3 linked regions of the Homo sapiens genome follow. The protein of the gene in region 2 interacts with the protein of the main gene of each other region in a biochemical or structural test. Each region holds a gene or a part of one and is shown on either strand. Other genes may lie near its edges.

Evidence for each region.
Region 1: the proteins of ETS1 (region 2) and ARID4B form a complex in vitro, tested with the Homo sapiens proteins (one study listed by BioGRID).
Region 3: the proteins of ETS1 (region 2) and CREB1 form a complex in vitro, tested with the Homo sapiens proteins (one study listed by BioGRID).

Annotation. Positions count from the first base shown.
Region 1 is NC_000001.11:235,168,791-235,171,339, forward strand, and holds part of ARID4B (AT-rich interactive domain-containing protein 4B), read right to left. Parts: intron 1-2,549. UniProt on the Homo sapiens protein: Acts as a transcriptional repressor. May function in the assembly and/or enzymatic activity of the Sin3A corepressor complex or in mediating interactions between the complex and other regulatory complexes.
Region 2 is NC_000011.10:128,577,451-128,581,110, forward strand, and holds part of ETS1 (protein C-ets-1), read right to left. Parts: intron 1-3,660. UniProt on the Homo sapiens protein: Transcription factor. Directly controls the expression of cytokine and chemokine genes in a wide variety of different cellular contexts. May control the differentiation, survival and proliferation of lymphoid cells.
Region 3 is NC_000002.12:207,574,852-207,578,511, reverse strand, and holds part of CREB1 (cyclic AMP-responsive element-binding protein 1), read right to left. Parts: intron 3,241-3,660; coding exon 3,058-3,240; intron 1,882-3,057; coding exon of another isoform or gene 1,865-1,881; exon of another isoform or gene 1,859-1,864; coding exon of another isoform or gene 1,819-1,858; exon of another isoform or gene 1,587-1,818; intron 1,403-1,586; exon of another isoform or gene 1,288-1,402; intron 1,008-1,287; coding exon 857-1,007; intron 1-856.

The sequences.
Region 1 (2,549 bases), on a different chromosome or scaffold from region 2:
ACAGTTCTACGATGTGAAGAAAGGAAAAGCTAGTGTAGCTCAAGAAGCTAGACAGTGCCCAACTACAGAAGTAATGAAAAGGACAGACCAGGGAAGGCTCCTGCGTGGGTCAAAGAGGGAAAGAACTGTGCCTAGTCTACAAGACACAGAAATAAAATACAGAATACACTTTTTGTAACAGTGAAACAAGTATCAAAACAGGAAAAATCTGCAATCCATCCAAAAATCATTTGTCCCCTCCTAATCCCTCCATCTTTCTGTACTTAGGAGTTTTCTTGTACATGTAAATGGTGACAAGAGTGGGAGGCTTAATTGCTTCTTCAAGTTGGATCAAAACAGTGCATAGCTCAACTGTTGCATTCTCCGCCACTAGGTTTACAAAGCAAATAACACATTAGTTATTTTCATCAGAGGAAGTCTCTCACTGTTTCCTTTTTTCGTTTTTTTTTGTTTGTTTGTTTTTTGAGACAAAGTCTCGCTCTGTCTGTCGCCCAGGCTGGAGTGCAGTGGCTCGATCTTGGCTCACTAAAAGTTCTGCCTCCTGAGTTCACGCCATTCTCCTGCCTCAGCCCCCCCAGTAGCTGGGACTATAAGCGCCCGCCACCACGCCCGGCTAATTTTTTTGTATTTTTAGTAGAGATGGGGTTTCACCATGTTAGCCAGGATGGTCTCGATCTCCTGACCTCATGATCCGCCCATCTCAGCCTCCCAAAATGCCGGGATTACAGGTGTGAGCCACCGCGCCCAGCCTGTTTGTTTTTTTGAGACGGAGTCTCACTCTGTCGCCCAGGCTGGAGTGCAGTGGTGCGATCTCGGCTCACTGCAAGCTCCGCCTTCCAGGTTCACGCCATTCTCCTGCCTCAGCCTCCTTTTTTTTTTTTTTCCTTTGAGATGGGGGTCTTGCTCTGTTGCCCAGGCTGGACTGCAGCAGTGCAATCTCAGCTCACTGCAACCTTTGCCTCCTGGGTTCAAGCAATTTTCCTGTCTCAGCCTCCTGAGTATCTGGGATTACAGGCATGCGCCACCATGTCCGGCTAATGTTTCTATTTTTAGTAGAGATGGGGTTTCGTCATGTTGGCCAGTCTGGTCTCGAACTCCTGACCTCAGGTGATCTGCCTGCCTTGGCTTCCCTAAGTGCTGGAATTACAGGCGTGAGCAATTGCGCCCGGCCTCTCTGTTATAAATTAGTGTTCATAAATTAATATTTTTAAATACATGCACAGATTTAAAAAATTCATTCAGTACAGGGGTAATAGGATAGAAAAGCAAATCTCACTCTCATCCAGGAACCTCCTAATCACCCAAATTCCCTTCCCCATTGCTACCAGTTGATTCATATTCATTACAACTCTAGAAAAAAGGCTGGCAAAAAAACTACCCCAGGGGCAAATCTGGCTTACTTGTCTTTGGAAAGAAAAATTGTACTGGAACACAGCCATGCCTATTTGTTTACATATTGCCTATGGGAGTTTTCACACTTACCATGGCAGAGATAAGTAGTTTCTACAGAGACCACATGGCCCACAAAGCCTAACATATTTATTGTCTCTTTACAGAAAATGTTTGCAACCCCTGTTCTACAGGAATTTTATCTCTAGAATCTAGAGATATGATATGCAAATTTAAAATATATAGATATAGCAACACCTTTAAAAACATAAGTGGAGGCCGGGCACGGTGGCTCACACCTGTAATCCCAGCACTTTGGGAGGACTAGGTGGGCGGATCACAAGGTCAGGAGATCGAGACCATCCTGGCTAACACAATGAAACTCAGTCTCTACTAAAAATACAAAAAATTAGCCAGATGTGGTGGTGGGCGCCTGTAGTCCCAGCTACTAGAGAGGCTGAGGCAGGAGAATGGCGTGAACCCGGGAGGCGGAGCTTGCAGTGAGCCAAGATTGCACCACTACACTCCAGCCTGGATGACAGAGAGATACTCTGTCTCAAAAATTAATAATAATATTACAAAAATTAGCTGGGCATGGCGGCACGCACCTGTAGTCCTAGCTACCCGGGAGGCTGAGGCAGGAGAATCGCTTGAACCGGAAGGCAGAGGTTGCAGTGAGCCAAGATCGCGCCACTGCACTCCAGCCTGGTGACTGACCGAGACTCCGTCTCAAAAAAAAAAAAAAAAAAAAAAAACCACACACACACAAGTGGAAGCATAGTTCAGTGTCTGACTTTTTTTTAAACAATATATTTTAAGAGATTGTTCCATATCAGTACATACAGATCCTTTTCTTTTCAAAGTTGAGTAATATTCTACTATATTACAACTCATAACTTATATATTTCACTACACTGTTCCTGCATTGGTTTTAGTTTTAATTTTTTTGGTAAGAATGATACCTTATTTGGGCCAGTCGCAGTGGCTCATGCCTGTAATCCCAGCACTTTGGGAGACTGAAGCAGGCGGATCACGAAGTCAAGAGATCGAGCCATCCTGCATCCTGGCCAACATGGTGAAACCCCATCTCTACTAAAAATAAAAAATTAGCTGGGCGTGGCAGCACGCTTGTAATCCCAGCCACTCGGGAGACTGAGGCA
Region 2 (3,660 bases):
AGAATTTAAGCTCCCCAAGGGGGAGATTTAGTTCATTTATTCACTCCAGATCCCTGGATCCTAGGCCAGTATTGGAAAGTAGCTGGCACATAGATAACTGTTAAATACAATAGTGTAAGTTAGAAAACTTGTACACACTTTTTCAGTGTAAACCCCTCTTTTTACAAATGAGGAGAAAGACTAAGGCGATGCTGCTAATTGGCCAAGCTGAGACCAGACTCCTGGTCTTCAGCCTCCTCCTGTGCTTAGAGAAGATGCTTCTCTAGACCTTTGTTACCCAGCGTCCAAATCATTTTTGCACCCAAACAGGTCTCATGGATGCTGCTTAGCTGGGGAGTAAATCTTCAGATGCCACAGTTGCTTTGCATTTATGCAATAAACGTGTGCAATGCTAAGAAAAAAATTGGTGCAGCTGATGTTCAAGCAGTTGTCACGTGGGAGGGAATTCTCTTCTGCCAAAAAGCCAAAAAAAAAAAAAAGAGAGAGAGAGAGAAGATGCTTCTCTAAGCACCCTCATCACCCTGGATGGCGAGGACAGAAACAAGCATGAGATGGAGAAGACAAAAAAGTCAACACTTTGGCTTATGTGGGTGTCTCATGTCCAAAAAATCACTTTAAAACTATGGTTCTGCTTGATTCTAGAGAGTTCTATTCTTCATAGAGCGAGTGACCACTTCTCCAACTTCCCACCCTCCCCAAACTGGCAACCCGGCCAGGACCTGTAGGCTCTCACTTCCTTTCACCCAAAGCTTGCCAGGGCAGGGCAGGGCAGGTTGAGAGACACAGAATAAAGGAAAAATTAGGGAGGAGAGGGACTGTTCAGGCCAAGGCAGCAGAAGAACAAGAAATCCCAAAGAGACCAGGCTTGAATCAAGGCTGAATCCAGTTCACATCAACTCTGACCCTGCTTGGCTGTATTTCTAGATAACTTTGACATCAGTTAAGCCTTTTTCATTTGGGGTTATGTATTCCTAAAAGAAAAACTACGCTTTTAGGTAAATACCAAGTAAATTACACTTTAATTTTTTTCTTTTGAAAACAAAATTCTTTTGAAATCAGCAGTTTTTGCCAAACTAATACAATGTTACCGCAAAAATTAAAATACAAAAAAGTAACAGATGGATATTAGAATCACCTGAAACCTCACCATGTAGAGATAATTATACTAATAATTTGTTCAATATTCTTCTGGGTATTTTTTAATCTATCTAAACGAACATAGATGTCACACACACACACGTGATTACAATTTTACCTTCATGAGATTATTCTCCACATGTTCTTTTGTAACCTGCTTTGTTCACTGACATTTAACATAATGCTATGGACATTTTTCTCTGTTGATAAATGTGGCTGTCTATCCTAAAGATGATGACTGCCAAGTATTCTATTGTATGTATATATCATACTTTTAAAGAGCCTCTTATTATCGTATAATTAATTTGTCCCCAATTCTTTGTCATTATAAAAATTCCTAAAATATTTTACATTCCCACTAAATGCCGAAAAAGAGCATTTTGGGGACAAAGAAAATATGCATTCCATATTTGAATACATATTGACTAACTGCATTCTATAATAGACCAGCCAAAATTAGACTCCCACTGACAAAGGCATCATGTTTTAAATTTCAACTTGCCCTCTCGTCTTCATGTTAGCTTCATAGGCAATGAATTATGGTTAAAACATATCCTGGGTATGAAGATGGCACATGGGGAATTCAAAAGCACAATAAAGCTGTGGCAGAAAATGTAGATTTCTCCCCACCACCCCTCACCCCAGCCTTTCCTCTTTGAAAACAATGCAAAATTTGAATAGATTTCCAATGAGCATTTATCCTAATGTCAATAATTTAGGATTCCTATCAATTCAAACAAAAAGCATGTCCTTTTGGCTTGGAATACAGGAGACAAAGAATTTGGCTTCCAGGGCTGGGCTCGGTGGCTCACGCCTGTAATTCCAGCAATTTGAGAGGCCGAGGCAGGCGGACCACCCAAGGTCAGGAGTTCAAGAGCAGCCTGACAAACATAGTGAAATTCCATCTCTACTAAAAATACAAAATTAGCCAGGTGTGGTGGTACATGCCTGTAATCCCAGCTACTTGGGAGGCTGAGGCAGAAGAATCGCTTGAGCCTGGGAGGCAGAGGTTGCAGTGAGCCGAGATCTCGCCATTACACTCCCACCCGGCAACAAGAGCAAAACTCCATTGAAAAAAAAAAAAAAAAAAGAATTTGGTGTCCAAAACAACTAACCATGTAAAAAAAACTTGCTCCAAACAACAGCACTTTTGCCAAACTAAAGGCAACACCTGGGCTACCAAGGCAACATCTTTAATCTACAATGTATAGAGTTTTAATTTCTTTTTTCTGAATACTATAGAAATGTATTTTTGAAGACTCAGAGTATCTCCTCTTTCAGGAAGCTTTCCCCTCCCCCCTACCCTCTTTGGCAATTGCATGGACCTCCTTGATGCCCCTCCATGGGATTTACTGTAACGGTGTAACAAAGTTCATGACACTTCCTGTATCTATGCCTGTTTCTGCTCCTGAATGATGAGTAACTTGAGAGTAAGGATGGTGTCTTTTCAGATGACACATAGTAGCCATGCAACAAGTGTCTGTTTACTAAATGAGGGAAAGTACCTAAAGTACTTGAAACAGAGTTGGTGTGTACAATCCTTGTGCGTCCTGAGCTTATCCAAGAGAGTAAGTTATCGTTTGGACATTAAAAAAAAAAAAAAAAAAAAAAAAAATCCCTGTGATGAAGTGTGTCCTTGTGTGACCCTGAGGTTAGGCTTCTCAAGAGTTAACTACAAGCAAGATGGCACTTTTCTCTAAACTATAGGATGTACCAGATTGATGAGTTCATCTATACTCCTTCAGTGTGTTCTTTCTGATTCTCATGAGTAGCCCACGTGTATTTCCCAAATCATTTGAGTAGATGTCTTCCCTGACCTGTCACTGTAACAAAAGCTCCCAAATCCAATTCTCTAAGAACTCAGGTTTAAGATCCATCATATCTAGGAAAGCTGAACATTCCTTACTCCCCATGGAAACTTTGTGGTTACAACGCATAGAAAAGAAAAAGGATTAGAAGAACTGAAGATGGTTTTTCTGTCTCACTACTAAATCTACAAGAACCTCATTTGCTTGACTAAGTAATCCAACATTACAGTAGTAGTGAATATTCCTTCTTATTTTAAGTAGCCAGCACTGACAAATGAAGGCTGTGTTCCAAATTATGGGCTACTGTCTTCTGTGTCTTAAGCTAAGTGCATTTATTCTTTCACTAAGGTTACAGAGCAGCAACTCACAGTACAATTAACATCTCAGTCTTTGTTTCTTCACAACTTCACTATAATTATTCCGCCAACCCTTGCTTAAATGGAAATGAGTCATATCCATCTCCTATTTCTCTAAAAATAAACCCATCTCCTAATTAAGCATAACACTTTCAAGTCCTGTATGAATTGACATAGCTCAACGAATCCTTCTTAGAATATTAAAATGAACTCATGTCATTATAATTTTAAAGAGTATATTGTTTTACCCTTCCTTGAGGAGTAACTCGCTACTATCTCCTGAAAAAGAGAAAGACTAGAAGATGTTTTACTCTGGTATACCATAGCAGTTAAGAAATAAGGAATGCTTCATAGATTAT
Region 3 (3,660 bases), on a different chromosome or scaffold from region 2:
TACCTTCTCCCAAAATGGAGGGATAGGGCTAGGACTTGGAAGCCCTGCTTCTTTCACTTTATCAGTGTTTGAAGTATCCTGGGATGAACAGTGAGATACTTTCACTAATTTCAAACTTTTTAAACCTTTACATAACCTTATTTTCATTTTCTTTTGTTTGTCTCGGTCACTTCTATATGAAAGTTCTAAACCAATATTTAGTAACTTATTTTTATTGTTTTTGACGGCAAAATCATTTACAGCAATAAAGTTACTTTCTGAGAATTGCTTTACCAACATTTCACAGATTTTGAATGTAGTATTTTTTTGAAGACTATATTTTAAGATTTTTGTCCGTAACATGGTATTCTTAGAATTAACATATTTTTGAAGAATCTTTAGGTGTTAAAATGTTATTATTTTGAGTAAAGATATTATTCATTAAAACATGAACTGGCCACCATACATTTACTTTATATCAAGTAAATTTAATATAGATAAAATTTAACACACAGTTAATATACATATATGAAACTCTTGATCTTCTTGAACAATACTATACATGAAAAGAAACCATTTTTAAATAACCTGGCTAACTGGTTGGAGTGCAGACATAGGGAAGTTGTGCATTAAATCTCCTGTGGGGAAACTGCATGAAAGAAAACTACTCCACGATCAAAGATTGACCCATAATCATACAGCTATCTTATAAGTGCAGCTTATTAAATAAAGAAAATTTAGCAAGATCCATTAATTCTGCTGGAAAAAAAAAATTCAATGCAAAGATCCTATTACCAGTAGATGTAAAGATACACATCCAGCAGAATGTGAAGACACACTTAACACATAACAATCTAAGTAAATGCAGTATTTGTACCTGTTCTTCATTAGACGGACCTCTCTCTTTCGTGCTGCTTCTTCAGCAGGCTGTGTAGGAAGTGCTGGGGAGGATGCCATAACAACTCCAGGGGCAATAGTGCTAGTGGGTGCTGTGCGAATCTGGTATGTTTGTACGTCTCCAGAGGCAGCTGAAAAAAACAGTGAGCATGGTGTAAGACAGAAACATTGCAACTTGATTCAATTATGTGTATCAATCATCAATCTAAGCATGTATTTTGGACTAAAAGGGAAACAAAAAAGAAAAGATGATTCTGGCTAAAGCGTTGAAAGAATCAGCACTCTTCGCGCCACTACTAAGAAATAATTCCCAATGTAATGTATTTATTACAGTAACCTATGTCCGCTGGATCTTACATTTTATTTTTCATTTGAATGCAGTTCTATTCTGTTGTTAACATGCTTACCAACCTTAAGTCTAAAAGGTAAGTGGGGCACAGCTTGGATGATCTTCCTAGATAGAGTATAGTCCTCAGTGTCTTCCTTTGATATTGGTAAATTCATATTAAAAAATTTCAAGTAGACTCTTGCCACGACATAAAAACGACCATGATTTTTCATAAAATAGCAAAATGAAAAAGAAGATAAAGCATTATGGTCAACTATTATAAATTTTGAATTAAAACAAAACTAAAAGTATGAAAAAGTGTATCACTTGATGCCAATTATATTATTTGAAAAACATATTGTTTTAATGTAAATGATAATGGCTAAATAAACTGAAGTTTTATTTTTCTAACTGATTCACCATTTGTAAAAACAAACACAATCACTATTTGTCAAACTGCTTCTAAAAACAGCGTAATAATATGCTCTCCTAATAAGGAACCTAATGTTACTTAAAAAAATTTGAAGGTCTTTATAAAATTATTCATATTAATTATTAATATCAATTAAAATGTATGGTTTGAGTGGAAAAGATTTATATACTAAACATGTTACCATCTTCAAACTGACGTTCAGAATTCAAATTCACTGACATCCTGCTTTACAATTTTTGAGTACCTGCATGTAAAGTGAAAAGGTGTTTTACTCTCATCAATAAGCAAAATAGTATCTTTTTCAAATACTCGTTTAATAACAGAATATATTCTGTAAACATTAGGGCTCTTTAAATAAGTTATGACTCTCTCCAGTTGGTGTTTCAGGATTATTCAATTATCCATGGTGAAAGGATACAACTGTCATTACCTAACACAGGCAAAATGCATTATTATTTATAAAAATATTTTCAGAAACAAATTTATTATTATTTCCTCAATCAGCAAATTTCTAACCTGGCATTAACTATATTCTTGAAATATTCAAACAAATCCAAAGAAAAATGGTTAACTGCTATCCATAAAGATTCCTGAAATAAACAGAAAAAAAAAACTAAAAAAAAAAAAAAAAAAGCCAAAAAAAGCAACTTCTATAATTTGTCGAGAATTTAACAACTACTTTTTCTCTAAAGAGCAGCAGATTTGCATATTGGTATAAGATCCTGTGGAATATAATGTTTTCATTTGAAACAAAAACTGAGTCAAGTGCAGAGGCATCCCAACACTTTGGGAGCCTGAGAAAGGAGGATTGCTTGAGGCCCGGAGTTCAAGACTAGCCTGGGCAACACAGTGAGACCATGTCTCTAGAAAAAAATAATAATAATAATAATAAAAACTGATGATCTCAGAAGATTTAAATTTCTTTTGGGGGGGGGGGGGGAAGCAGAGAAACAGAATCCTGAACTTCTGAAGATTGTTTCCAGAGATTCAGTGCAACTCTTATTTTACAGATGAAAAAACAAAAACAACAACAACAAAAAACAAAACACTTTCCTGAGGCTCAGAGCAGCTGACTTTTACTCAAGGCCTCATAGCAGATCCATGCAGTTAGATACAGAATCCATCTTTTCTAACTCCTGATTTCCTGGTCTTTCCTTCTAACCTATCCTGTTTCTTCTACCCCAAAAGATGTTAAAGGTAGATGCAATATTTTAAAAACTGAAAATAGTTGTTTTTATGCCATGACATTTTGGTCCAATTGGAATAATGGAAGAGTTCATGAAAAATACTATCAATATTGAAGAAATGTTAACTACATTTGAATGGTGGTTTGCAATATGATACTTACTTTTTCTGTGAGTTTATAAAATTTTAGTATTTTGAAGAATTTACCACACCTGTGAATTCTGAATTCCCTTACCTTGAACAACAACTTGGTTGCTGGGCACTAAGATCTGCTGTCCATCAGTGGTCTGTGCATACTGTAGAATGGTAGTACCCGGCTGAGTGGCTGCTGCATTGGTCATGGTTAATGTTTGCAGGCCCTGTACCCCATCGGTACCATTGTTAGCCAGCTGTATTGCTCCTCCCTGGGTAATGGCAACTAAAAGCCAATGGATTTTATTGTTACAAGTTTAATACCATATAAGACTTTTAAAACATTACATCCAATGTAGAATAATTTGTAAAATAATCTAGGAGAAGTTACAGCAAATAACATCACCAAGAAGGGTCTAATATATTCAAGTAACTTGCTCCTCAGGAAACCCATATTCAACTTCTACAATAGAAATGCACTCTATGAACTGCATTCTAATTTATAATAATAATGCCTGTTAACAATTTTTTTAAGTGGAAAAATGTTAAATTCCTTCTGAAGTTATTTGGTTCTGAAGAGGTTCCACTCTGTGATCCTTTCTTTTATTTTAGCATTAACTGCATAATGTATTAATACTTGTCCCACTAGTAAATAAATTTCTGGAGAGTAGGAATTTTCTTATATACTTTCATACACTTAGCACAG